Regions from separate parts of the Homo sapiens genome. Here regions 1, 3 and 4 are each linked to region 2. The links come from fine-mapping of genetic effects on gene expression. A gene starts in region 2. Each other region holds a variant in brackets. All regions are shown on one strand. Distances are between the middles of the regions.

Region 1 (5,000 bases), 36 kb after region 2:
CCAGTCTGTGACCCTGAGCCCGCTGGGGAGAGGCCGGGGTAGCCCCCAAGGAAGCTCTGGGGGGCTCAGCTCTGGGGGTCTGCGGGGGACTCTGGGGAGCCCACAGTCGGAAATGCGGCTGCTGGGGTTGGCAGGGGGACACAGCTGTGCCTGGCACCAGGGGTCTCTGTCCCGTCCTCCACCCTAAGGGCGCTGGCGGCGGCACAGGGGAGGAGGGCCAGGTGCAGGCCGGACCCTTCAGCTCCCAGCACAGCGGCGGGAAGTGCCCCGCACGGCCCGCGTTGTGGGCCCGGCCCAGGCAGGAGACGTTGGCTCACACCCCATTGTCTCTGTGGGGTGACCCCTTGCAGCTTCGGCCACCCCCAAGCCTGAGCTGAGCTCCAGAGCTGGCTCAGGCCACTCCCAACCCATCGTGACAGAAGGGCAGTCGGGGGGGCCCCACCTCGCCCCTGCCACCATCCCAGCAATTCCACACTCTCTGAGGATGGGGGGGCCATACAGTAGAGGTTTTGGGTCATCGCTGCTTGGGAGCCTGCTGGCTGGGTCTGTGGGGCCTGTGGCCCCTTGTCCTGAAAGGCAATGTGAGCTTTGGTGGCCGACGGTCCAGGGTTCCTACCTGTCCCCCGACGGCGGTGCCCCGGTCCCCTCCCGCAGCACCCGACCAAGGCCTGGATGCAGGCAGGTGAGACCCCGCTGGGGGGCCTAACTGGGGCAGGAGGTGCCCAGCTCCCTGTCCAGCCTCTGAGGGCAGTGAGCGAGTGCCCACCAAGACCTGCTGCAGAATATTCTGAAAATGGCCGGACCTTGGCCAATGGCTCAGTTCCCTCCCCTTCCTCTAGGCCAACGTGGCAGACTGGCCTGGCTCAAGCGCCTGCCTTGGGGGTGCGGCTGCCACATGGCCAGACAGCCCGAGACCCAGCCTGGCCGAGCCCACGTGGCCTGCGCACAGCTGGAGAGCCAAGCCCTGAGCGTCTGTGCAGCGGGGCGGGGCGGCCACTCCTCTGTCCCATGGGGTGGGAAGCGCAGTGTCAGCTTTTGAGCCGGAGGACCTGTGGGGCTCACCGGCTTCTTCGCATCTCAGCGGGTGACCTCGAGCCTCAGTTCACACCTGAGCGCCGCTTCCGGCTGTGCTGGTATCAGGCTCACTCGGGCAGAGCCCTCCTCGGGCCGCCTCCCCAAGCCTCTCCCCCCGCAGGAGGCCTGGCCCTGGCGCTGCTGCTGCTGTCCTGGGTGGCACTGGGCCCCCGCAGCCTGGAGGGAGCAGACCCCGGAACGCCGGGGGAAGCCGAGGGCCCAGCGTGCCCGGCCGCCTGTGTCTGCAGCTACGATGACGACGCGGATGAGCTCAGCGTCTTCTGCAGCTCCAGGAACCTCACGCGCCTGCCTGATGGAGTCCCGGGCGGCACCCAAGCCCTGTGGCTGGACGGCAACAACCTCTCGTCCGTCCCCCCGGCAGCCTTCCAGAACCTCTCCAGCCTGGGCTTCCTCAACCTGCAGGGCGGCCAGCTGGGCAGCCTGGAGCCACAGGCGCTGCTGGGCCTAGAGAACCTGTGCCACCTGCACCTGGAGCGGAACCAGCTGCGCAGCCTGGCACTCGGCACGTTTGCACACACGCCCGCGCTGGCCTCGCTCGGCCTCAGCAACAACCGTCTGAGCAGGCTGGAGGACGGGCTCTTCGAGGGCCTCGGCAGCCTCTGGGACCTCAACCTCGGCTGGAATAGCCTGGCGGTGCTCCCCGATGCGGCGTTCCGCGGCCTGGGCAGCCTGCGCGAGCTGGTGCTGGCGGGCAACAGGCTGGCCTACCTGCAGCCCGCGCTCTTCAGCGGCCTGGCCGAGCTCCGGGAGCTGGACCTGAGCAGGAACGCGCTGCGGGCCATCAAGGCAAACGTGTTCGTGCAGCTGCCCCGGCTCCAGAAACTCTACCTGGACCGCAACCTCATCGCTGCCGTGGCCCCGGGCGCCTTCCTGGGCCTGAAGGCGCTGCGATGGCTGGACCTGTCCCACAACCGCGTGGCTGGCCTCCTGGAGGACACGTTCCCCGGTCTGCTGGGCCTGCGTGTGCTGCGGCTGTCCCACAACGCCATCGCCAGCCTGCGGCCCCGCACCTTCAAGGACCTGCACTTCCTGGAGGAGCTGCAGCTGGGCCACAACCGCATCCGGCAGCTGGCTGAGCGCAGCTTTGAGGGCCTGGGGCAGCTTGAGGTGCTCACGCTAGACCACAACCAGCTCCAGGAGGTCAAGGCGGGCGCTTTCCTCGGCCTCACCAACGTGGCGGTCATGAACCTCTCTGGGAACTGTCTCCGGAACCTTCCGGAGCAGGTGTTCCGGGGCCTGGGCAAGCTGCACAGCCTGCACCTGGAGGGCAGCTGCCTGGGACGCATCCGCCCGCACACCTTCACCGGCCTCTCGGGGCTCCGCCGACTCTTCCTCAAGGACAACGGCCTCGTGGGCATTGAGGAGCAGAGCCTGTGGGGGCTGGCGGAGCTGCTGGAGCTCGACCTGACCTCCAACCAGCTCACGCACCTGCCCCACCGCCTCTTCCAGGGCCTGGGCAAGCTGGAGTACCTGCTGCTCTCCCGCAACCGCCTGGCAGAGCTGCCGGCGGACGCCCTGGGCCCCCTGCAGCGGGCCTTCTGGCTGGACGTCTCGCACAACCGCCTGGAGGCATTGCCCAACAGCCTCTTGGCACCACTGGGGCGGCTGCGCTACCTCAGCCTCAGGAACAACTCACTGCGGACCTTCACGCCGCAGCCCCCGGGCCTGGAGCGCCTGTGGCTGGAGGGTAACCCCTGGGACTGTGGCTGCCCTCTCAAGGCGCTG[C/T]GGGACTTCGCCCTGCAGAACCCCAGTGCTGTGCCCCGCTTCGTCCAGGCCATCTGTGAGGGGGACGATTGCCAGCCGCCCGCGTACACCTACAACAACATCACCTGTGCCAGCCCGCCCGAGGTCGTGGGGCTCGACCTGCGGGACCTCAGCGAGGCCCACTTTGCTCCCTGCTGACCAGGTCCCCGGACTCAAGCCCCGGACTCAGGCCCCCACCTGGCTCACCTTGTGCTGGGGACAGGTCCTCAGTGTCCTCAGGGGCCTGCCCAGTGCACTTGCTGGAAGACGCAAGGGCCTGATGGGGTGGAAGGCATGGCGGCCCCCCCAGCTGTCATCAATTAAAGGCAAAGGCAATCGAATCTAACAGGCACAGTGGGTGACTGCGAACGTGAAACCAGGGAGGGGGCTGGGGGCTCGGCGCGCAGCTGTGGTCTCAGAGCTTTGGGAGGCCGAGGCGGGCGGATCGCTTGAGCCCAGGAGTTTGAGAGACCGTCCTGGGCAACACAAGAGAGACCCCGTCTCTACAAAAAATAAAAAAAATTAGCATAGCATGGTGGCCCATGCCTGTGGTCCTAGGGAGGCCGAGGCAGGAGGACTACTGGAGCCTGGGAGGTAGAGGCTGCCGTGAGCCAAGACTGCACCACTGCACTCCAGCCTGGGCGGCAGAGCAACACCCTGTCTCAAAAAAACCCACCTGGCTCAGGGGAGGGGAGGATGGTGTTGCCTGGGTACGCCTTGGTCTCCTCACCTCTCTCCTCCCCGGCTTGGCCACGCCCAGGGCCCCCGCCTGGATCCTGCCCCGCCACCGCCCTGGCCAACTGCCCCACACCCATGTGTCTTCCTGGTCCCCGTGGCTGCCCCTCGGGCTCCCCAGAACATCCTCCAGGAATGATGGCACCAACTCGAATCCCCAGGGGCTCTGCGTCTCACCCCTCCTCTTTGAGGGATCGCCCTGAGGACCAGGCAGTGTCCCCGAGGGGTGTGGTCCAGGCAGCCAGGGCGCGGCTGAGGTGGGGTGAGGAGGGAGCGCGGGGCGGGCCGTCCGCCTTGCGTGGGAAGCCGCACCCCCTGCAGATGCCGTGGGCGTTTGTCTCTGCCCCCCCCAGGCACCGGCATCGTCAGCCCAGGTGCTCCTGGTGCCCTCTCACCCACCCAGAGGCCGCCCGGGTTGGTTCCGGGCCCCCACCTCCAGGGTCCTCCCCTGCTGAAGGCTGAGCTCTTCCTTTGGGAAAAATGGCGCGTTCTGCTTTCTGGAAGGGCTTTCCTTTCGGGTCTCACTGGGAAGAGGTGCAGGGGACCCCTGGGATTGGAGCTCCCTTCTCAACCTGACTTCTGGTCTCTGTCCCGGGAGGGGCCCCTTTAGTGTCCCAGGGAGGCCATTCTTCCACGGCGAAGGGGCCAGCTGTCAGGTTTATCACAAAATCTCCCCGAATTCCCACCAAATAAGATGCAAACACATCAGCACCTGGGCCCAGGGGCTTGTTGACAACGGAACGAACGAACCTGCCGGCCTGGCCCAGTCCAGCCCAGAAACTTACAGAAGCAGGTGCTGTCTGACCCCGAAGGACAGAAGACTCTAGAAACATCAGATCTGTCGCCACAGCAGCGGACACGTTTAATGGCAGGCGCCTCTACAGTTACAAAACATGCCTGAGGTCAGTTCGCCCCCTTAGGGGGCACTCCCCGAGCTAAACACAGATGACAGCGACCCAGGGTGCTGGAGGCCCGGGGTCACCTGAGGACTGCAGAAGTCCCGCGCTCCGCTAACTGTGTGGACACGCGGCTGCCAGGGGCACAGGTAGGCAACATGGATGGGAAGAGAGCCCAGGCCGCCCCCGTCTCACAGCTGCAGAGCACGCAGACCACGGCACTGCAGGCCAACCAGGCAGAGCTGCTGGTGCGACACATCCTGGGGCTGGGCTGGTCGGGGAGAAGCTCTCCGGCTGACGCTGCCTGGGCCTGCCCCTGCAGGGCCCGGGAACCGAGCCCAGGCCTCTGTTTCTCTGAGAGGCTGGAGCAGAGCCCTTGGTGGCCCTGGAAAGCGGCTGCAAGGTGGCCTTAGTCAGGGGAGGCACGCGGGCGTCGCGTCCAGAATCTTCTGGGCTATGGAGGTGAGTGCAGCGAAGGCGGGGCTCCCAGGGAACTCCTGGATGAAGTCGTGGCCCTCCTCCAGGGTCCTC
Region 2 (7,208 bases):
TTAGAGACAATCTCAAGGTCCAAAAATGGAGGCTTGACTTCAGAATCTTATGCAATCCATGAAAGTTGTACTGCAGAAATGTGTCAGCTAACAAGGAAAAAGATGGTCACAATATACAGTGAAATAAGCAAGTTAAATAATTGTATGGTATAGCTGGGCACGGTGGCTCATGCCTGTAATCCCAGCACTTTGGGACGCCCAGGCGGGTGGATCACTTGAGGTCAGGAGTTCGAGACCAGCTTGACCAACATGGTGAAACCCTGTCTCTACTAAAAATACAAAATTAGCCGGGTGTGGTGGCGTATGCCTGTAATCTGAGCTACTTGGGAGGCTGAGGCAGGAGAATCACTTGAACCTGGGAGGCAGAGGTTGCAGTGAGCCGAGATTGTGCCACTGCACTCCAGCCTGGGCAAAAAGAGTTAAACGCCATCTCAAAAAGAAAAAAGAAAGAAAGAAAAAAAAGAAAATTGTATGGTATGAGCAAACTCTATTTAAAAAATTACAATTATATCCACAGACTTGGAAGAACTTGCAATAAATGCTTAACTTTGGCTGTCTCTGGGTAGATGAAATTTTTGGTGTTTTGTTCTAATTGCTAATCTCTATTTTCTGACTCTTCTGTAATTACATGCATTGCCAAGCAATGAAAAAATAATACTAAAAGTAGTTAAGATAGCATGATACTTAATAAAGAAATCCAATTATGGCACTTCCTCATACTATATTATAATTTAAGCATGGGGTTGCAGCATACCTAAGTGTCTGATTCTTCTTATGTATCTACTTACAAGATGCAGCCTGCATTGTGGTCAAAACTTCACGTTCTGGTCTTGGGGGAGCTGGGTTACATCTCGGCTCTGCCACTAAGCTGAGTGACTTTAGCCAGCCTTCGCAGCCTCTAGATCTGTCTTCATCTGAGTAATGGGGATGGTAGTGATCATACTAAGCTTATGGCTTGGTTGCTGGTTACATAACACGTGGAAATACAGAATAAACTGCTTGGCATGGTGCCTAACAGTACTGTGTTCAATACATGGGGACCGTTACTACTCAATCAGATGTCCTAGGCTTTCTTCAGGGGCCAGCAGATGATGTGAACGCGAACAGGAACCCCTGCCGAAGCCCAAAGGACTCCTCCAGGCATTGACAGCTATGCTGTGCATCTTGCCTGGATGTTTTTTCAGAGGAGGGTGCAGGCAAGAGCAAAAGCAGCAGTCCCAGGCTATTCAACTTCCACAAAGCCTCCTTATCTCCGGTTGGGAAGTACAGTTGCTGATTAACTGTGTTAACACAGCACAGTGCTCAGAAGGCCAAAGGTCAAAGACTAAGGTCTGAAGCCCCACAAGGAGGAAATATCCCTCCTCGTCATTACTGGGGGGAAAAAAATTACCCTTGTAAGCCACTTAGAAGGGAGCACCTTTATTTGGAAAACAGTAATTTCAAAATCATCTCCCGAACTCAGAATCGATGGGTCTGGGTAGATACCCTAAGTAAACAGGTGAAATCTTCATTACTTGTTCACTTATTAAGTAAAATTTTAAATTAACCGATTATGTACAGGAGTGTTTTTCACATTTCCTGATAAGAATCACTTGGAATGCCCTGTAAACACAGCTTCACTGGAGATTAATCCTATCAAATTGATTCAGCAAGTCCGAGATGGGCCAGTAATTTGTGGAGATTTTTATTTTTACAAATGCTTCCTGATGATGACCAAATCTAAGAAAATTTGGTAAACAACGGAAAGTTATCTGGAACATAACTTTCAGTTTTCTCTGCAGTTTTTAAGTGCTGAACTACTGATCATCCTAGAGATAACCCACTGAAAAGTCTTCTCTAATCCAGTTTTACAAAAGGAAAGTCTTTTTAACATTTGGTTTGATAAAATGTTTTCCGAAGAAATACTTTACTTGCCTGTTTTCATTTCTGGCCCACCCGTTCTACTTCACGTTTTCTTGAAGGGTTCATCTTCTATGAGTTGAGGCATAGCAATCTAATCATTTTTAAAATAAATGGTTTCTTTTTTTTTTTTTTTTTTTGAGACGGAGTCTCGCTGTTGCCCAGGAGTACAGTGGCGCAATCTCAGCTCACTGTAAGCTCCGCCTCCCGGGTTCAATTGATTCTCCTGCCTCAGCCTCCAGAGTAGCTGGGACTACAGGCGCCCGCCACCACGCCCGGCTAATTTTTTGTATTTTTAGTAGAGACGGGGTTTCACCCTGTTAGCCAAGATGGTCTGGATCTCCTGACGTCGTGAGCCGCCCGCCTCGGCCTCCCAAAGTGCTGCGATTACAGGCGTGAGCCACCGCGTCCGGCCAATAAATGGTTTCTAATTAAAGGATTGTGACATTTAATAGCCGTTGCTTGCTCTTGTCTTGCTCCCTTCTCTCTCGAAACTTGTTAAGAAATAACTCAATATTCTGGCTTTTCCACTTTAAATGTCATACTGACCAGCCCGTGTATGCCAGCCTCGATCTCATCGTTTTCTTTAACCGGTCCAACTCCCTTTGGCGTCCCAGTCAAGATAATATCTCCTTCTTCCAAGGTTATGATCTTAGAAACATAGCTGATGATGTAGGGGATGGAAAAAATCATGGAGGATGTCTCACCCTCCTGTCTGAGTTCGCCGTTGACCTTGAGCCAGAGCTTCAGCTTGTGAGGGTCAGGGATCTTCTCCTTGGGCACGAACGCGCTGACCGGGCAGGACGCCGTGAAGCTCTTCGCCAGAGTCCAGGGCAGCCCCTTCTTCTTGCACTCGTCCTGCACGTCCCGGGCGGTCATATCCAGGCACAGGGCATAGCCGCCCACGTAGTCCATGGCCGCAGCCTCGGGGACTGCGCGGCAGCGCTTGCCCATCACCACGCCCAGCTCCAGCTCGTGGTGCAGGTTGCGAGTGTACGCGGGCATGAGGATGGGCGAGCCCTCGGGCGCGTAGGCCGTGGACGGCTTCAGGAACAGCACGGGCTCGCTCAACACCGCGCTGCGCATCTCCCTGACGTGGTCCGCGTAGTTCCTCCCCACGCAGACGATGTTCTTTCCCCACTCCCAGAAGCGGGACAATGGCCTGGATGCTGCCATGATTCCCATCAAGTGCCCCTGTAGTCACGTGGGCTGGGCCGGTCAGCTGATGCCTACGGCATCCCGGAGAGGACCAACTGCCTCGGAACGCTGTCCCCCGCAGCGACGGCCCGTTCCACCTCGCGATCTGCCGGGTACCCGGGCGGCGTGGCGCTCGGCCTCCAGGGATCCACTGTGCGGTGCCAAAAAAGAGGCGGAGGCTCGCGGCACAGCTCTCCCGGCGCAGCTCTCGGGCCGCCGCCGCCGCTCCCAGGCCCGTCTCCCGGCCCGTGGCAGTCGGGGCTCGCGGACAAAACAAGTTGAGCGCGAGCGCGTTGATTGGTTGGCGGACGGTGCGAGGTGGACGCTGATTGGCTGAGGGCAGCGCGAGGCGGGCGCTGATTGGCTGCGACGCGCCGACGCCGGTGTTTTGCAGTCCTGGGCAGCTCGGCAGTCCAGCCCGGCCCGGGTCATGGTGGTGGGCCGAGGGCTGCTCGGCCGCCGCAGCCTCGCCGCGCTGGGAGCCGCCTGCGCCCGCCGAGGCCTCGGTGGGTGCGGCGGGGCGGTGCGGGCCGGGGGACGCGGGCCTGGCGGGGCGGGCAGCGGGCGGCGCCGGGCCGTCGTTTGGCGACCGCTGACGCGGTGTCTGTTGCGCAGGTGCCTAAGGCCGCGCTGCCGGGCTCGAGCGGAGGCGGCGCAGGCGCTGAGGCTGGCGCGGAGCGGGCGCGGGGCCGCGGGTGCGGAAAGCGCTAGGTAAGCAGGGCCAGGCCTGCGTCCGCCGCGGCCTCCACGCTCGGGCTGGGCCGGCCGCGCCCCTGACGCCTCCAGGGCATCGCGTCCTGCCCGGGCCGGCGCCGAGGAGAGCCTGGGGCGCGGCTCTGAGGCGCAGCGGGCAGGGCCCCGGGACGCCTGGCCCACCCCGCACCTGCTGCCCCGCTGCAAGGACCGCGGTCTCGCGGCGCCGCCTGCGGTGGTGGAGCTGCCCGCCCGGCGCCGGAGCCCCCGTCTGGGGACCCGGCGTGTCATTCGCCCGAGGTGGTCGCGCGGCCGGGCCAGGCCAGCGCCCCGGGCGGGTGCGCAGCGCAGGGCACTGGGCGGGCGGAGGCGCAGACAGGGAGGCGTCCCTGGCGGTTTCCAGATCTCGCCGAAAGCTGTCAAGGCTCTGCAGGGGGTAGAATGTCGCCATTGCTAAGGAAAGGACATGGATTTTGAGGTCCTCAGAATTACAGTTTTAGGGACATTCATAAGGGTCCAGGCAGAGAGTTCCAGCGGGACTGTGTGCATCGGCAGGGCGTGCGTACCCCATTCTAAGGGAGGCCCCAGCCCCCGTATTTGGTGCCGCCCAGTTCAAGGGAAGCAAGATGCTGTGAAACTTCCTGATTTAAAAAAGAAGTGCAGTGACGCACGCCTGTCATCCCAGCACTTTGGGAGGCCGAGGCGGGAGGATCGCTTGAGTCCAGGAGTTCCAGACCAGCCTGGCAACATGTTGAGACCTCATCGCTACAAAAACTAAACAAAATCAGCCGGGCGTGGTGGCACACAACTGTAGTCTCAGTCACTTTGGAGGCTGAGGTGGGAGGATCGCTTGAGTCCAGGAGGTCGAGGCTGCAGTGACCCTTGATCGCACCACTGCACTGTAGCCTAGGGGACAGAGTGAGACCATATCTCAATTTTTTTTTGTTTTTGGGGCCAAACCGAACATGTTTCTGGACTTGGTCCAGGCCCCAGGCTGCAGGTCCTTGACCTGTTTGTACAAAGTATTACAGTTACAAAACAGCAAGCCGGGAACATTTGCCAGGCAGTGCTGGGCTGAGTGATATGGAAAGGGAATACGGTTTCTGCTGGTGTTGGCACCAGCTGCGTCTTTCCTCAGAAATAAAGGCACCTCCCTGGGTTGTCAGCTTCTTCAGGAGGCTGTGATGGTCTCCAGGGGAGGCTGAGCACCAGTTGTAAATGACATTTTCTTCGCCTGGGCAGTGCAGTGGCCAATCTCGGCTCACTGCAACCTCTGCCTCCCGGGCTCAAGCGAGTCTCCTGCCTCAGCCTCCTGAGTAGCTGGGACTACAGGCGCTCGCCACCACGCCCAGCTAATTTTTGTATTTTTTAGTAGAGACAGGGTTTCACCATATTGGTCAGGCTGGTCTCGAACTCCTGACCCCGCGATCCGCCCGCCTCGGCCTCCCAAAGTGCTGGGATGACAGGCGTGAGCCACCGCACGTGGGCAGTATTTTTGTTTGTAATGTTCTGCTCCTTGTTTGTAATGGAGCTCCTTTCCAGGAGGACGCCCGGCACTCGGAATCCTGTCACAACCCTTCTGCACCCCACCTGCAGCCCCCAGCACCCACACTCTGCTTGTTGTGCTCCTTGGGCTGGGGTGGTGCTGAGGCTAAGGGGAAGGGGAATAACACAGGAAGCTGCTCATATAGAAATCTTGGTATTATTGTTCCTGAGGAGAATGATCTGGAAAATGCCCAGCTGGTTGTCAGGCGGGTAATAGGATATCTTTGTGCAGTGATTGAAACTATAGTTTGGGCAGTTTCCCCGGCTGTGGAAATAAGGTCGGATTCCGCATTTCGGTGGGCCCTGGAGACGCGTGTGTCTGTCAGTTGGTGGCTGCTGCCCATTTCTGGATCCCTTTTGGGAGAAGCCCCTGCCGTGGCACCTACCCCAGGACTGCACTGTCCTCTGCCACCTTCTGTGGTTTCTTCCCCGTGTAGAGCGGAACTGAAGGTATTGTCGGGGCCCCCAGGTATTTTTAGATTTAGTAGGAGTTTCATTGCTGAAAATATTTTTGCATTGGTCGACTGGGTGGCAGACACTTTTGTCCCTTGGTCACCCACTCCTCCCAGCTCTTGGGCCTTCTGGGCCCCTGTGGCAGAGTCCTTTGGGTCAGTTGGATGGTGGTTTTGTGTCCTCCACACTTGAATCTGGGGGCAGTTGTGGCCAACTTTCCGTCTCAAAGGAACTGCTGATTTTTGTGCATATCTCAGATTCGTGCTGTTCAAGAGCAAGTATTGTTTGTTTGTTTTTTTTTTTTTTTGAGACTGTCTCACTCTGTTGCCCAGGCTGGAGTGCAGTAGGGCGATCTTGGCTCACTGAAACTTTCACCTCCCGGATTCAAGCAATTCTCCTGCCTCAGCCTGCCGTCAAGTATTGGTTCTTTCTGGCTAGAGGCTGAGAAGGGCTGTAACTGCATGGAACGCAGGCTCGCTTAGTCAGTGGTGGCAGCACAGCTTGCTGGAGGGCAGATGGCCAGGCGGGGGCACCCCTAGTCTGTGTTCCCTTCTTCACATTCTGTCCCTGAGTCCGGGGTGTGAATAATCCAGCACTGGCAGTGGTTCGCCTCACAATCACAAGCTGGCCTTCCTGTCCTTTTAGAGTTCTCAAAAAAGAAAATAGAGATCGTAAGTCTGAAACAATTGATTTCCATGAATGTGAGCATGAGTTAGTTCCTGTGTTCTCCTCAGGGATATATGAAGATATTCCTTTTTTTTTTTTTTTTTTTTTTTTTTTTTAAGGAACAGGTTATTGTCTTGTCACCCAGGCTGGAGTGCAGTGGCACAGTCATAGCTCACTGCAGCCTCAAACTCCTGGGCTCAAGTGATCCTCCTGCCTCAGCCTCCGGAGTAGCTGGGACCACAGGCATGCACCACCATGCCTGGCTAATTTTTAAATTTGCAAAGACAAGGTCTTGGCTGGTCGCGGTGGCTCACACCTGTCATCCCAGCACTTTGGGAGGCCGAGGTGGGCGGATCACAAGGTCAGGAGATCGAGACCATCCTGGCTAACACCATGAAACCCGTCTCTACTAAAAAATACAAAAAATTAGCCGGGTATGGTGGCGGGCGTCTGTAGTCCCAGCTACTCAGGAGGCTGAGACAGGAGAACGGCGTGAACCTGGGAGGCGGAGCTTGCAGTGAGCCGAGATCGCGCCACTGCACTCCAGCCTGGGCGACAGAGCGAGACTCCGTCTCAAAAAAAAAAGAAAAAAAAAAAGACAAGGTCTTGCTATGTTGCCCAGGCTGGTCTCAAACTCCTGCCCTCAAGCAGTCCTCCCATCTCAGTCTCTTAAAGCGCTGGGATTCCCGGCAAGAACCACCATACCTGGCCAGAATATTCCTTTTCAAAGGAACCTAGAAAGGCTGGGAAGCACT
Region 3 (7,676 bases), 43 kb before region 2:
AGGCTCCCGCCACCATGCCTGGCTAATTTTTGTATTTTTAGTAGAGATGGGGTTTCACCACGTTGGGCCAGTCTGGCCTCGAACGCCTGAGCTCAGGCAATCTGCCCTCCTCAGCCTCCCAAAGTGCTGGGATTACAGGCATGAGCTACCAACCCCGGCCAAAAATATCTTCTTTTAAAGGCAGAGACTGGAAAGGAATAGGGACGATTTAAAAACCCAACTCTTCCCATTATATTTGAAATGGTGAAATGCAGGTACTTTATTTTGCTTCCCAGTATTATTTGGGAAATTAAAAAAAAATGAGGAAAAGAAAAACTGTATTTTAATAATAACATAAAACTTGGTTCTACAGTGGTATTTTTCTTTTATAATATGTGTGTGTTATATGCACCAAAGTTGTTCTTCTCTTTTTAAAGAGAAACTTAAATAATGCTACATGTGGACAGTAGTAGGTGACAAATTTAATGGACTTAGTTTTTGGATCTTACTTGCCCTGGGTTGGTACTCTGTTAACAAAAATTAGTATAAGTCATTAAACTAAAAAGATTTCTAAATGGAAGTAATTAAAAACATGAAGAGCTGAGAAAATTTTTGTCAGATTCACCTAAGTCCAATCCTTAGCACATCTAATTATATATATATTTTTCATACATAGATATACACATCTAGGGTTTTTTCTTTCTTTTTCTTTTTTCTTTTCTTTTGAGACGGAGTCTCGCTCTGTCACCCAGGCTGGAGTGCAGTGGCGCGGTCTCAGCTCACTGCCAGCTCCGCCTCCCGGGTTCACGCCATTCTCCTGCCTCAGCCTCCGGAGTAGCTGCGACTACAGGCACCCGCCACCACGCCCGGCTAATTTTTTGTATTTTTAGTAGAGATGGGGTTTCATCTTGTTAGTCAGGATGGTCTCCATCTCCTGACCTCGTGATCCGCCCGCCTCGGCCTCCCAAAGTGCTGGGATTACAGGCGTGAGCCACCGCGCCCAGCCCATCTATGGGTATTTTCTTGATGTACTACATGCCAAATCTATCATTAGATGTAGATATATTAATTAATTAATTAATTAATTAATTTTGTAGAGACAGGGTCTTACTCTTGCCCAGGCTGGAGTGCAGTAGCGCCATCATAGCTCACCACAGCCTTGAACTCCTGGGCTCAAGCGATTCTCCCCCCTCAGCTTCCCCAGTAGCTGGGACTACAGGCATGCATCGTCGTGCCTGGCTCATTTTTTCTTTTTTTTTTTTTTTGGAGACAGAGTCTCACTCTGTTGCCCAGGCTGGAGTGCAGTAGTACAGTCTCGGCTCACTGCAACCTTCCTCTCCTGGGTTCAAGCGACCTCTCCCGGGTTCAAGCGATTTTCATACCTCAGCCTCCTGAGTAGCTGGGACTACTCGGGTGGGCGGGCGGCGCCACAAGACAACCAGGCACTCACCACCACGCCTGGCTAATTTCTTTCGTATTTTTAGTAAAGACGGGGTTTCACCATGTTGGCCAGGCTGGTCTTGAACTCCTGAGCTCAGGTGATCCGCCCGTCTCTGCCTCCCAAAGTGCTGGGATTACACGCGTGAGCCACCGCGCCCGCCCTTCATAATATTATAGATAGAGAGATATGTTTATTTTTTTCCGGCGCACCGTCTTTTGGAATCCAGCGACCACAGAGCCACACGCGGCTGTGAGAGCGCACGGAGACCCCTCCCCGCGCCTGCGGCTGTCTTGTCCCTCTAACTCCCAAGAAGGAGGAAACGGGAACCGGGCTCCCCTCCCCTCCCCCGAGGGCTGAGTCTGAGCGCGTTGGGGGCGGAGCCAGTGAGCGGTGGGGGCGGAGCCAGTGAGCGGTGGGGGCGGAGTCAGTGAGCGGTGGGGGCGGAGTCGCTGAGGACGGGGCGGGGCCTCGCGCTAACGGTCGCGCGGCCGTCGCACCTGCACGAGGCTGTGGCCCGAGCGTCCTGTGGAGAAGCCGCGAAGCGCGGGCGACCCGGGGGTCGGGCGGGCCAGGTCCGCGAGGCCGCGGCGGCAGCTGTGCAGGCCCGGGGAGCAGCCGGCCGGGCGAGCCTCGGGTAAGCAGCGGCGTGGACGGCCAGGTGGCGACGCGGGCCAGGCCTCCAGCTGTGGGGCGGCGTCCGAGGAAGGGAGCCCGCGCGGGTCAGGGCCCGGCTCCTCCTCCCTGGTTCAAGGATTCCCCTGCCTCAGCCTCCCGAGTAGCAGGGATTAGAGGCGTGCGCCACCATACCTGGCTAATTTTTTTTGTATTTTTAGTATAGACGGGGTTTCACCATGTTGGCCAAGCTGGTCTCAAATTCCTGACCTCGCGATCTGCCCACCTCAGGTGCAACCCCATCTCTACAAAAAATACAAAAATTAGCCAGGTGTGGTAGCAGGCTTCTGTAATCCCAGCTACTGTGGAGGCTGAACCAGGAGACTCGCTAGAACCCGGGAGGTGGAGGTTGCAGTGAACCAAGATCGCACCATTGCACTCCGGTCTGGGCAACAGAGCAAGACTCTGTCAAAAAAAAAAAAAAAAAAAAAAAAAGGGCCGGGCGCGGTGGCTCAAGCCTGTAATCCCAGCACTTTGGGAGGCCGAGGCGGGTGGATCACGAGGTCAGGAGATCGAGACCATCCTGGCTAACACGGTGAAACCCCGTCTCTACTAAAAATACAAAAAATTAGCCAGGCGTGGCGGCGAGTGCCTGTAGTCCCAGCTACTCGGGAGGCTGAGGCAGGAGAATGGCGTGAACCCGGGAGGCGGAGCTTGTAGTGAGCCGAGATTGCGCCACTGCGCTCCAGCCTGGGCGACAGAGCAAGACTCTGTCTCAAAAAACAAAACAAAACAAAATTGTAGGGTAAAAGAGACAGTAGTTGTTGAATGAAGTCATCTCTGAATTCTCAGATTGAGCTCTTTAGTTCATGTTAATTTTGTATCTGTTAAAGTGACCAGGTAGAGAAGCAAGTCATATTTTTTGTGGGCAGACACTAACGTCTATTACCATATACCTCTAACGGTAGCAGACAAATAAGGGAATTCAGAGAGATAATAGGATACCATGTCCCACCAAGAGATGCTAAGGGGTAAAAATGTGGAGAAATCCCTTGGTGTGTAGGTAGTTGTGTTTGTACAGAATATTCAGCCACTGAGTCAAATGTCTGACTCATCCTCTCGACTCACATGTCTGGCACTTTGGGCTGTAAATAAATATTAGTTGAATGGTTGAATGAGTGAATGAATTTGTCACAGTTCGGCAAGTGTTTTAGATAGTGACACTGCATTGTGAGCCACATCAGACCAGGCCAAAGAACGAATGAAAAACTTGACACAGCTTAATTCCCAAATGTTTCTTCTGGCACTGAAAGGCCTTGAATACAAAAACTGGTACATTGGATAATATTGACAAGCAGGGCCATCATTGACTGTGAGCCTGTGAACATCGAGGCATCTTGTATACACTGTTTCTACTTTTCACTGCCAGGTGGATGTTATCCACAATTTAAGGATGAGGAAATTAATGTTTAGTAATGTTAAAACACACGACTACAAACTAGTGGTGTTGCAATTCAAAATCATATTTGACTAACTCCACAGGCTGCCTGAAATTCAGGTGTCATGAGACACGTCCTTGAACTGGAGCGGGTGGGTGTGGGCATTCCCAGAGTTAAAGAGGCCCTGGATTATAAAGTGAAGTCAATCTGTTTGGTGTAGCTTACAATTTTTCTACAATAGAACCTTTTAGAGTGATGATGTTGAGGGACAAACCACCATTTCGTTCATCTGATATTTATGGTTTTCAGTTATGAAATACATACATAAAAATACGTAAGATGCCACCTCTGCCCTCATGTAGTTTTACTATGTAGAGGTGTGTTTAAAATCAATAATTTTCCCGGGCTGGGCTCAGTGGCTCACGCCTGTAATCCCAGCACTTTGGGAGGCTGATGCGGGTGGATCATCAGGTCAGGAGATCGAGACCATCCTGGCTAACACAGTGAAACCCCATCTCTACTAAAAATACAAAAAAATTAGCTGGGTGAGGTGACACATGCCTGTAGTCCCAGCTACTCGGGAGGCTGAGGCAGGAGAATCGCTTGAACCTGGGAGGTAGAGGTTGCAGTGAGCTGAGATCGTGCCACTGCACTCCATCCTGGGCGACAGAGCGAGACTCCGTCTCAAAAAAAAAAAAATCACTACCTTTCCCTTCACACAGTATAATCAAATGCTCAATATGAGGTGTTTACGTAGATTTTTGCTGTATTTTTTGAGGTAAGCTTGATGCTAATATATATTTAAATCCTTAAATGTCCCACTGAGGCCGGGC[G/A]TGGTGGCTCATGCCTGTAATCCCAGCACTTTGGGAGGCCGAGGTGGGCGGATCACGAGGTCAGGAGATGGAGACCATCCTGGCTAACACGGTGAAACCCCGTCTCTACTAAAAATGCAAAAACAAAATTAGCCAGGCGTGGTGGCAGGTGCCTGTAATCCCAGCTACTCGGGAGGCTGAGGTGGGAGAATGGCGTGAACCCAGGAGGTGGAGCTTGCAGTGAGCTGAGATTGCACCACTGCACTCCAGCCTAGGCAACAGAGTGAAACTCCATCTCAAAAAAAAAATGTCCTATTGAATCATCTTGCATGTAAAACTCTAAATTTGGCTGGGCTTGGTGGCTCACGCCTGTAATCCAGCACTTTGGGGGCGGCCGGATCACTTGAGATCAGGAGTTCAAGACCAGCCTGGCCAACATGGTGAAACCTCGTCTCTACTAAAAATACAAAAATTGGCTGGGCATGGTGGCAGGCGCCTGTAATCCCAGCTATTTGGGAGGCTGAGGCAGAAGAATCGCTTGAGCCTGGGAGGCGGATGTTGTGGTGAACTGAGATTGTGCCACTGCACTCCACCCTGGGGCACAGAGTGAGACTGATGTCTCAAAAAAAGAAAAAAAGTTAAAACAAAATTAAAAAATAAAATAAAACTAAATTTACATGGTGCTCAAAAACTACTAAATTTTACATGGTTTTAGAAATGAAAGTTAAAAATTGAAACCTATAATAGCTATATCATTCAAAATTATAAAAGGACATTCTGAACATGTTTTTTATAGGTTTAATCGATATTAATTTACATTTTACCATTATAATAAAAATTTTCCAAAGCAGTAAACTATCCAGTGCTTTCCTAAATAATATTTTATTTTATTTTATTTATTTATTCTTTGAGATGGAGTGTCGCTCTGTCATCCAGGCTGGAGTGCAGTGGTGCCATCTCAGCTCACTGCAAGCTCCGCCTCCCGGGTTCACGCCATTCTCCTGCCTCAGCCTCCCGAGTAGCTGGGCCTACAGGTGCCTGCCACCAAGCCCAGCTAATTTTTTGTATTTTTAGTAGAGACGGGGTTTCAGCATGTTAGCCGGGATGGTCTCGATCTCCTGACCCTGTGATCCGCCCTCCTCGGCCTCCAAAAGTGCTGGGATAATAGGCATGAGCCACCGCACCTGGCCAATAATATTTTATTTTATTTTATTTTATTTTGTTTTATTTATTTTTGAGACAGAGTCTCGCTCTGTTGCCCAGGCTGGAGTGCAGTAGTGCGATCTCGGCTCAGTGCAACCTCTGCCTCCCAGGTTCAAGCACTTCTTCCTGCCTCAGCCTCCTGAGTAGCTGGGATTACTGGTGCCCGCTACCACGTGAGGTTTCGCCATGATGGCCAGGCTGGTCTTGAACTCCTGACCTCAGGTGATCCATCCACTTCAGCCTCCCAAAGTGCTGGGATTACAGGTATGAGCCACCATGTCCGGCCCTAAATAAGATTTTAAACTCTTGGAATTTTTTAAATGATTTATTTCATTTATTCAATTTATATATCTAAATTATATTTTCTAAAATGCAGATTAAAAAAATGGCAAACTCCTTTGCAGCGAGGATTTTCACTACCCTTTCAGATCTGCAGACAAATATGGCTAATCTGGTAGGTTTCAATAATGTGGTGATTTGCTTACTGATGACATTTTATGTGATAACATTACATCAATGTTATTGATTCATTCAACACATGCTTTTATAATTGGCAAGTATATAGATACTCATTGCATTGGTATAATTGTTAGATATTAAGTATACCTAAATTTCTTTGTATTTATGCCACCTAGATGAAAATTAATCTTTGTGTGTAGAGTAGAAGATATGATTGTAGATTTGACTAGTAATTGTTCAAAATGATCAATAGATGTATTATTTTACTTAATATTTTATAAAGTGAAAAATTTAATAAATGCTCAAATTTAGCATTGTAAAATTAAACCAGGCCAGGCACAGTGGCTCATGTCTGTAATCCCAGCACTTTGGGAGGCTGAGGCAGCTGGATCACCTGAGGTTGGGAGTTTGAGACCAGCCTGATCAACATGGAGAAACCCCATCTCTACTAAAAATACAAAATTAGCTGGGTGTGGTGGCTCATGCCTGTAATCCCAGGTACTCAGGAGGCTGAGGCAGGAGAATCGCTTGAAGCCAGAAGGCGGTCTCAGTGAGCCGAGATCGCACCATTGCACTCCAGCCTGGGCAACAAGAGCAAAACTCTTCTGAAAAAAAAAAAAAAAAAAAAAAAAAAAAAAATTAAACCATTTTGTTCAGCAGTAGCAATTTTCTGACCAAATTATCCAATTTATGGTCTAAGTACTTGACATTATGCTGCTTTTATGATATAGGTTTATAACATGTGTGTTTTCTACAATGATGATGTGAAAATTGACTCTTTGAGTAGGAGTTATAGGGGAATTCAATGATTTTGAACACATCTCGACTGTTACTTACTTAAAAGAAAACTAAGTGGAATCATCTTATAAGTTAAAGAACTTATTGTAAAGCAGCTACCACACACCCTTACCTTCCCTGCCCCTGAGCACTCTGCTATTTATATTTTGCTTTTGCAAACTAGATTTCTTACAATGGGATACATTTACATATAACTTTAATAATTTAAAATTTTAAAATATTAAAAAATAACAATTGTTGTTATAGTTTTTCTTGAAAGGTAAACTATTTGCTAATAATGGTCTCTTCAGATAGAAAGTTTTACTCAACATTTCCATTAATTGGATTTTCCAACAAAATTCAGTGAGATCTGCAAGTATAAGGAATTGAAGAAATAATATCAATGTGTCTAAATAAGCAATAAAGCTAGCTAATAGCTCAGCTAGAATGTAGGAGTCTTAAAAGCCTGATTGTAATTTAAATGTCAAGATTATTGTAAGGTTAAAATCAGTTGCTGCAATTAGCAAAATAAGTTTAGTTTTTTTCCTTTCAGAAAAGGTATTCATTTTTATTTTTTATTATTTTTTTTTTATTTTTATTTTTTGCGATGGAGTCCTGCTCTGTTGCCCAGGCTGAAGTGCAATAGTGGGATCTAAGCTCACTGCAACCTGTGCCTCTGGGTTCAAGCGATTCTCCTGCCTCAGCCTCGCGAGTAGCTGGGATTACAGGCACCCACCACCACACCTGGCTAATTTTTTGTATTTTTAGTAGAGATGGAGTTTCACCATGTTGGTCAGACTGGTCTCAAACTCATGACCTCAGGTGACCCACCCGCCTCAGCCTCCCAGAGTGCTGGGATTACACGTGTGAGCCAACACACCCGGCCCATTTTTATTTCTTAAAACACATTTAAAATTTTTCTTCAGTAGTCACTAAAGAGAACATTAAACATTT
Region 4 (7,676 bases), 81 kb after region 2:
ACCGCCGTCCTGATCTCGGGGAGCATTCCATCTTTCACCACCAAGTACAGTGTGTCCAACACTACTGAACTGAACACTTCAACTCGGTTAACATGGTGAATATTATGTTACTCATACATGGCCTCTACTGGGGCACTTTCTGACTCAAGCCAGGATGAGACAGGCCTCCCTGTCAGGGTGAGGCCCTGCTGGTGCTCAGCACCCCACATTACTCTGCTCCCTGGAGGTCCCCCTGCCCCAGATAAGACAATCAGCTCAGGAGTACACCAGGAGGCAGCCTGGGATCCAGGAGCTTCTCACCCTGCGGGCTGGGGGAAGCAAGGCCATGGCGAAAGGCTCGGACCCTGACGCGTGCAAGGGGACAGACTGCGCTGTCCTACTGCCCGCCTGTCATGCCTGAAAGCCTGGGGCTCAGAGCCACATGGCCAGTGCTCAGCTGCCAGCAGATGCCATGAGCACAGGAGACTCCACGTGCTGACAGGAAGCAGGTCCTGATGTTTGCAGCCGCCACAGACCTAGGCACAGGGGTCCGGTGTAGACCTGTGGCGCTGAGGTGAAGCCAGGGCTGTCTGCGGAGGAGTGGGCAAGTGGGCACCCTCCCAACCTCCTCCAAAGTCAATGGTCCTAGGGTGTGCGGCGAGGCTAATGGGCACAGAGCAGAGAAGCGGGCACCCTCCCAACCTCCTGGAGAGTTGGCAGCCCTGAGGGTGTGTGCAGAAGATGGGGCGAGGCTAACAGGCATGGATTTCTTTTAGGGATGGCGGAACATTCTAAACTGAGATCATGGGGGTGGCTGCCCCACCTGTGAGTACGCTGTAACCCACCGCACCGTGCACTCGAAGCGGGTGAATTTTATGATACAGTCGACCCTCAATACCCACGAGTTCTGCATGTGTGGATTCAACCAGCCTCACAGAAAATGTACAGGCCTGTGGTGGCCGTGTCTGTACTGACGTGTACACTTTTTTCCTGTCATTATTCCCTAAACGACACAGCATAACAGCAACTACTTACACAGCATCTACAACATAACCTAGAGGTGATTTAGAGTACACGGGAGGGTGCAAACACTACACCACTTCAGAGCAGGGACTTGAGAAGCCTCAGATTTTGGCATCCTTGGGGCAGTCCAGAAACCAATCCCCTGTGGAGATGGAGGGACAATTCCATGTGAAACGCAACTCAACAAAGCTGGAAAAAAAAAGGTTCCTAGCTCACAGCTGACAGAGGACTTTCCTTTCATTACAAACAAAACCAACAGCAGAAAGCCCCAGCATTGTGCAGGCACAGCGGTGCGGGGGAAGGCTTGCGCTTACCTAGGAGGTCGGCCCCTTCGTCCACATCCCCGATGACCTCAGACCCTGCCGTCGACAGCTCATGGTACAGGGAGTCGGTGTTGATGCCGAAAGCTTTGTTCACGATGCCCTGGGTTGGGCTGTTGGGATCCACAGGTCGGGAGAGAGAGCAGAGTCAGTGGGCAGCCCGGAGTGGCTGCGTCTGCAGACTCTTCCAACACCTCCCACCGTGGCCATTCAATGCCCACACTGCCCTGCAGGCCGGTCGTGGATGGAGGCGGTAGGCCACAGCCTTGATGGTTCTCCCAGTGGTGGCAGAGGAAGACTTCACCAAAGACACCGACTTGGATAAATACTGAGCCCCCAGGACCCCAGGGCCTGGGCTGAGCCAGTACCTGCTTCCTGTGCGGTCCAGGCGGGTCTCTGGACACATGTCCAGCTCTGGCGTGGAGTCAATAATGTCTTGAACATCAGACCACTCGTCACTGCTGCCCATGCCTAGGGGAGAGCACAGGGGCACCTGGGGTCAGGAGAGGGTCTGGCAGCCTCTGCCCTGCTCACGGCTGCCCTCGGAACCTGAGTCTGGTGGGCTGGAGCTGGACCACCTGCTAGGTGGGGATGATCAGAAAACAGCTCTTCCCAGGCTGACTGGGCAGAGGTCGAACCCCAGCACAGTAGACGTCTGAGGCGGGGCCTGGAGCGGGGTGGGTTGCAGCAGCCTCTCTGCATGGGAGTGTCAGCAGTAAGCCCAGTCCCCAGAGATCCCACGTCCAAGCAAGCCAGTGGCTGGACCTCCTCTCGGCCCTCATTCCCCTCTTCTCTTTCCCTCACTGGCCTGTGTGCCGTGGGGCAACGCAGGTTACTGGTTAGTGGGGCTGTGTGCCATGGGGTGACGTAGGCTACTGGTTAGTGGGACTGTGTGCCGTGGGGCGATGCAGGTTACTGGTTAGTGGGGCTGTGTGCCGTGGGGCGATGCAGGTTACTGGTTAGTGGGGCTGTGTGCCGTGGGGCGATGCAGGTTACTGGTTAGTGGGGCTGTGTGCCGTGGGGTGACGCAGGCTACTGCCTTAGTTGTGTCTCCCCAAATCCATATGTTAATAGATACCCCCTAGCATGACTGTATTTGGAGGCTGGGCCTTTCAAGAGGTGATTATGGTAAAATGAGGTCACGTGGTGGCTCTAATCCAATGGGGCTATGTCCTTGTAGGAGCTGGAGATGAGGACACAGACACACCCAGGGGATGCCTGTTGAGGACACAGGGAGAAGGTGGTGTCTACAAGCCAAGGAGTGGCCGCAGGAGGAACCTACCCTGCCAGCGCCTTGATCTTGGACCCCAGCCTCCGGGCTGTGAGGAACACGTCTCTGCTGCCTGCACTGCCCGCCTGGTGCATTAGTTTCACATCTACCCAAACCAAGCCCTGCCTCCTGCCCGAGGGAGCCCAGAGTCCCGGAGGTGGGCACCCACCTATACTGACGTTGCGCATCTCCTGGGTGACCTGTACTTCCATGTTGCGGCTGTCGCGCTTCTCCCGGGCACGCTTGCTGTTCTTGGAGCCCACGCCATAGTCCCCCAGGGGCTGCAGGCTCTCGTTGAGGGGTGTGACGGCGGCCGAGGGCACGGAGGATGTGGGCGTGTTGGACTTGGTGCCTGTGGTGCTGGGTGTGGCGGCCGCCGAGGACTGGCCTGACTCGGACATTTCATCCTGTGGACACTAAGGCCAAACACAGGGAGGAGGGAGAGCGAGTCACTGCAGGTCCCTGGCCTGCGGCTCCGCCGTGGCTGCCTGAGGCCCCGCGCACCAATGCTTTGCACTTTGCCTCGCCCGACACCCTGCGGGCCAGAGCTCCTCTGCCGCCCACCGGGCTAACCCTTCCGGGCCTCACCACTCCCGAGTGGCTCTGCTTATCCGGCCACTGACTCCGGCTCCTCGGAAGCAGGGCCACCCTCCTGAAATGGCTTGGAACGGGGCTTTCCACTGGTGCCCTCCCCAGACGATTGCTTGTAATGGGCCAGTGCCTCGCCAGGGACACAGCGGCAGCCCCCTGTAGCTTGTGGCTGTTCAGAAACAAGTCCAGCCCAGGTAGGGCAGAGGGCTCTGACTGGGGACCCAAGAAGGGCTGGCTGTGCCGCCACCGCTGCCCCGTCACCATCACTGTGCTGAAGAGCTCGAGGCTGGGCCCACCCGCGCCTGCCCCACGTTCCTCCCCGGGCTCAGGTCAGGGCCAGGGAGTGACCAGAAGGTGCTGACCCTGTGGCTTGACTGGACCAGAGCTCACCCCTGAACATGAGCAAGCGCAAAGAAACCACAATCCCTGCTCACAGAAAGGGACGCCACCAAGACATTCTGGAGGGTGGGGGCAGCCCGGATTACGAGAAACCGCAACCAGCCGTCTACCTCAGGAAGCTCGCTAGGGAGGAGCGCATTCTATGTGACTAATGCGGAATG[C/T]GAAACAAACATTCTTTCCAATGGTCTTTCCTAACAAAGATACTGAACCAGCTGGAGAAAAAGAGCCCCAAACGTTCTCGTCTTAGCTGACCTGATCACCCGCTATGGCAGAGCTTGCCCGTGGCCCCCGGCCCTCCTTGAGGTGTGGGAAAGTGCAAGGCCTCAGAGGCACCCAGGTGGCTCCTGTGCCTGTCCCAGGCAGCCGCTGGGTGGGTTCCCGTGGTCTCTCAGAGGGCGCACCGTGGGGGACTCTAATGCTAAGGATCTCACCCAGGGAGGAGCTGTCGAGGGGGTATCCAGCCCTCTCCACAGCTGACTTATACTGGCCTTTAAGTGACCAGGGCAGACGGGACTTCCAGAAGTCATGGCCAGTGCTGACCTCTGCCTCTGCCCAGCCTCTCTGGTCACCGCCAGACTCAGGGCACGGGGCCTCTCAGTACCGGACACGGCCACTCACTCAGAGGACACATTTCTGCTTCATCTACCAGGCTCCTAAGTTTCTCTAGAAGGAATCTCAAAATGACACACCTTCCTCTATAGTAGCTATTCTCAGTTGGGCTGACTGCCCCGAGGGGATGCTTGCAAAGTCCAGAGACATTTTTGTGGTCACAAATGAAGGGGGTGCTCCTGGCTTTCGTGGGTGGAAGCCAGGGATGCTGCTCCACACCCACCGCGTCCCAGCGGCCCAGGCCATGCATGTCCAGCCCCAAAAGATGAGCAGTGCCGAGGGAGAGCCCTCACACGGGCGCAGCCCGCCTCCCGGAGTGGCTTTGTAGAAATGTCTGAGACGGCCTGTGGCTCTGCAGCTATGCCCAGTTTGAAAGGAAAACCCTTGCTCTTCATGTCACTCCCCACGCTGGAGGAAGCGAGTACCGCTCATGCAAGAAGTCTGTGCTGACGTTCTCAAAGAACCTGTCTACCCAATGTGTCACAGGCACCTGGTGTCTCACCGACTCTGCCACCACCCGGCAGAGAGAAAACAGGGAACCCCATGTGGCCAGGCAGGGTGTAGCTGTGCACATCAGACAAACGCTTCTGGGCCACCTTCCTCCACGCTGGGTCCCCGGCCTGCTCCTGACCCTCATGGTGGCTGCGGGGAATTCTGCAGTCTGATTGCGCCTCCCCTAGCTCTCCGTCACCCTACAGGGCCACCACTTACCCATGGGACACTCCCCCTGGCCACAACTTACCTAAAGGCAAACCTCTCAACCTCCTAAACATCAACGTGTAGCAGTGACCTCCAAATGCACTGAAAGAACCCAAACTCTTAGCGGTCATTCCTCACCATGAGTAGCCACAACTGTTTGGTTAAAACACTGAAAATACAGTACATAAAAACAAAAACAAAACAAAACAAAAAACAACAAAAAAATTAAGAAATTAGAAAAACTTCAAAACCTAGAGCATAAAATAAAAAGAACTTAAATGTAATAATTTAAAATAAAGAAAAATCAAATAAAACACTCCTATGAACGAAAACATAAAACGCTACAATTTATGAAGAGAGCGACGATGTCAGACAACGCAGGAGGTGAAAGGAAAGACATCATGAGAAGAAGAGCGGGCCCAGAGCGGGCGCGAGAGGCAGCCCGGAGGCCAGAGAGCGTCAAGCAAGGGCTCCCCCCGGCTGAGGCTGACGTGTCTTCAGATGCCTATGGGCAGGTCCCAGCTCCAGGCCCGGGAAGCGTGAGCCAGAGACAGTGAGAGGAGGTGGGCCCAGGTGGCAGGGCTGGGCCCAGAAGGCCCGGGGAGCCCGCAGCCCCGCCACCCTCTCTCCAGCCCTGAGCACAGGGAGGACAGGAGAGCGTTCCAGATGCCATGAGGGAGCTCGCTCCCAGAGCAGCGCAGCAGCAGGTGGGCTGACGGAGCAGGAGCCTGCAGCAGCCCCCACAGGCACGATGGACACTTAGAGGTGGAAGGACAGTCGGCAAAGCATGCAGCAGGAAGTAAGCTTCTGGAGAAGTCCCAGGCCCCACATCCACCAGCCCAACCCAGCCCACAGGCCCCAAGGGCTCTGCCTCTGTGGACATCCTCTGACGGCCCCTGTGGGAAATCCACCAGACCCGGGGTCACCTCTTCTTCCCAGGAAGGTGGCTGTCCTTACCTGGCACTGAGGCCAGTGAGCTCACAGGCCAAAACTGGCAGCAAGCGACCTGGGGCCCTGAAGGAGTGGCCTGGCTCTGGGCCCCTGTGCTCTGAGGTGCACTCACCGGCTGGCTGTGAGAACCTGCTGGGGCCCCCGCACTCTGGCTGTGAGTACCTGCTGGGGCGAGGCTCTGCTTTCTCAAACTCAGGACCCAGGAGGCGTTACCAGGGACAGGCAGGGAGGGGCCCAGAGAAGAGGAGCTTTCTCCTCACCTTTCTGCCAACGGAGGGCAAACCCCACACTCTAGACACTGACGTTCCTCCGAGAGTAGAGGCGTGGCTCTCAGGGGCAGGATGTGTCTGGCTGGAGCCCGGGTGAGCATGAGGCTTTATGTGGGGGTGTGGTTTGAGAGAGGATCACTAAGCTCAACCCTGACAGGCACTGTACACCCCTGGCTACAGAGCGGTCTATCCAAGGGCAGGGAGGTCTAGCCTGGACTAGCAGGTGCCGACACGAGGCCGCGTGGAACAGCCACAGCCACACAGGGCCTGCTGGGCAGCCTGAGCCCCTGACACCCTGGCTGGGTTTCTCCATCCTGCCACACACGAAGGGAGAGGGCGAGTGGCCCAGAGAGCCGTGAAGGGCTGCCTGCAGACGAGGCTCCCGCCCCAGTGAACGGGGAACACCAGCAACAGGGAGGAGCCTCTCACTCCACGGCACGGCTACAAAACCTGGTAGCTGGAGCTGGACTGCAGCTGGCCGAGGTCACTCAGGTGCCAGTGGTCCCCCGCAGGCACGAGCTTGCCCCCGATCTGTGCACGTACCGTGCCGTCAGCCAGGGGGAACACGTTCAGGGAGGTGGGGCGCTCCTTCCTGCTGAAATGGGGGGCGAGAGGAGAGGAAGCGATGGTTAGAGGGTGGCCGTGAAGATTTCCCAAGCCCTCCCAGGGCAAGCAGACCTCGAGTGATGGGGCCGCTCCATGCCAGCCAGCAGCCCAGCTCGAGCAGCTACTCAGTTATGATCCTACGTGGCGCTTCCCCTCCCATGATGCTGCAGTTTCTCATTTTTATTAAGTTCAATTTTATTTTATTTTATTTTATTTTATTTTTTTTGAGGCGGAGTCTCGCTCTGTCACCCAGGCTGGAGTGCAGTGGCACGAACTTGGCTCACTGCAAGTTCCACCTCCCAGGTTCACGCCATTCTCCTGCCTCAGCCTCCCACGCCTGGCTAATTTTTTTTTGTATTTTTAGTAGAGACGGGGTTTCACCGTGTTAGCCAGGATGGTCTCGATCTCCTGACCTGATGATCCGCCTGCCTCGGCCTCCCACAGTGCTGGGATTACAGGCGTGAGCCACCGCGCCCGGCCTAAGTTCAATTTTAAACAGACACAAGCCGGGTGTGCTTTAGACACCCCACAGCAGAGCCAGCCACGGGACTTGGCATCACGGTCAGCGCTGCACGGCCACCATGAGCAATGCCTTTTAGGACCATTGTCTTATGTGTGCCCAGCCCTGCCTCCCTGTGGTGTTACTGCCAGCCCTGCCTGTTCCCCTGGCGCCAGCAGAGGGAATCCAGCCTTCCTGCCCCTGTGCCTTGTTCCTTGGCCCCTCCTGCCCATCCTCATTACTCCTGTTCATGAGGCTGCCTCACTGCAAAATATCTGAACACGACACATCCAGAGTAAGGACTGACCCCGTCTCATCTGCTGCAGCCGGAGCCTGAGCCTGAGGGGCGTCTTCTCCCTCCCCACGTGTCCTCTCTGCTGTCAGGGAGCCCCGAACCTGAAGACGGACCCTGGGACAGCCTGGCCTCGGACAGCCTGGCAAGACAGTGGGAGCGCCTGGGA

The links. PIP is the estimated chance that this variant, and not a neighbour inherited with it, causes the effect.
Region 1: its variant is the best candidate, but not a certain one, in a credible set for the expression of HAGH in whole blood (TOPMed, PIP 0.65).
Region 3: its variant is the best candidate, but not a certain one, in a credible set for the expression of HAGH in whole blood (TOPMed, PIP 0.58).
Region 4: its variant is the best candidate, but not a certain one, in a credible set for the expression of HAGH in whole blood (INTERVAL, PIP 0.74).

The regions. Positions count from the first base shown.
Region 1 is chr16:1,788,597-1,793,596 of GRCh38, reverse strand. It overlaps NUBP2 (NUBP iron-sulfur cluster assembly factor 2, cytosolic), which reads right to left. Exons shown (of 7, transcript NM_012225.4): 7 at 4,411-5,000. The coding sequence ends at 4,883. It overlaps IGFALS (insulin like growth factor binding protein acid labile subunit), which reads left to right. Exons shown (of 2, transcript NM_004970.3): 2 at 1,196-3,184. The coding sequence ends at 2,997. Among named protein-coding and RNA genes, the nearest start is that of IGFALS, 2.6 kb to the left of the region's middle. The variant C/T (reference allele first, on the strand shown) is at 2,821.
Region 2 is chr16:1,823,106-1,830,313 of GRCh38, reverse strand. HAGH (hydroxyacylglutathione hydrolase) reads left to right here and starts at 3,489. Exons shown (of 9, transcript NM_005326.6): 1 at 3,489-3,602. The coding sequence starts at 3,527. It overlaps FAHD1 (fumarylacetoacetate hydrolase domain containing 1), which reads right to left and starts at 3,108. Exons shown (of 1, transcript NM_031208.4): 1 at 1,404-3,108. The coding sequence starts at 3,075. The coding sequence ends at 2,410. RefSeq lists enhancers at 2,889-3,078, 6,343-6,412 and a silencer at 3,169-4,138.
Region 3 is chr16:1,866,371-1,874,046 of GRCh38, reverse strand. MEIOB (meiosis specific with OB-fold) reads left to right here and starts at 1,883. Exons shown (of 14, transcript NM_001163560.3): 1 at 1,883-2,054; 2 at 5,863-5,940. The coding sequence starts at 5,872. The variant G/A (reference allele first, on the strand shown) is at 4,305.
Region 4 is chr16:1,742,361-1,750,036 of GRCh38, reverse strand. MAPK8IP3 (mitogen-activated protein kinase 8 interacting protein 3) reads right to left here. Exons shown (of 32, transcript NM_001318852.2): 5 at 6,561-6,705; 6 at 2,762-3,008; 7 at 1,691-1,793; 8 at 1,317-1,435. Among named protein-coding and RNA genes, the nearest start is that of MIR3177, 11 kb to the right of the region's middle. The variant C/T (reference allele first, on the strand shown) is at 3,744.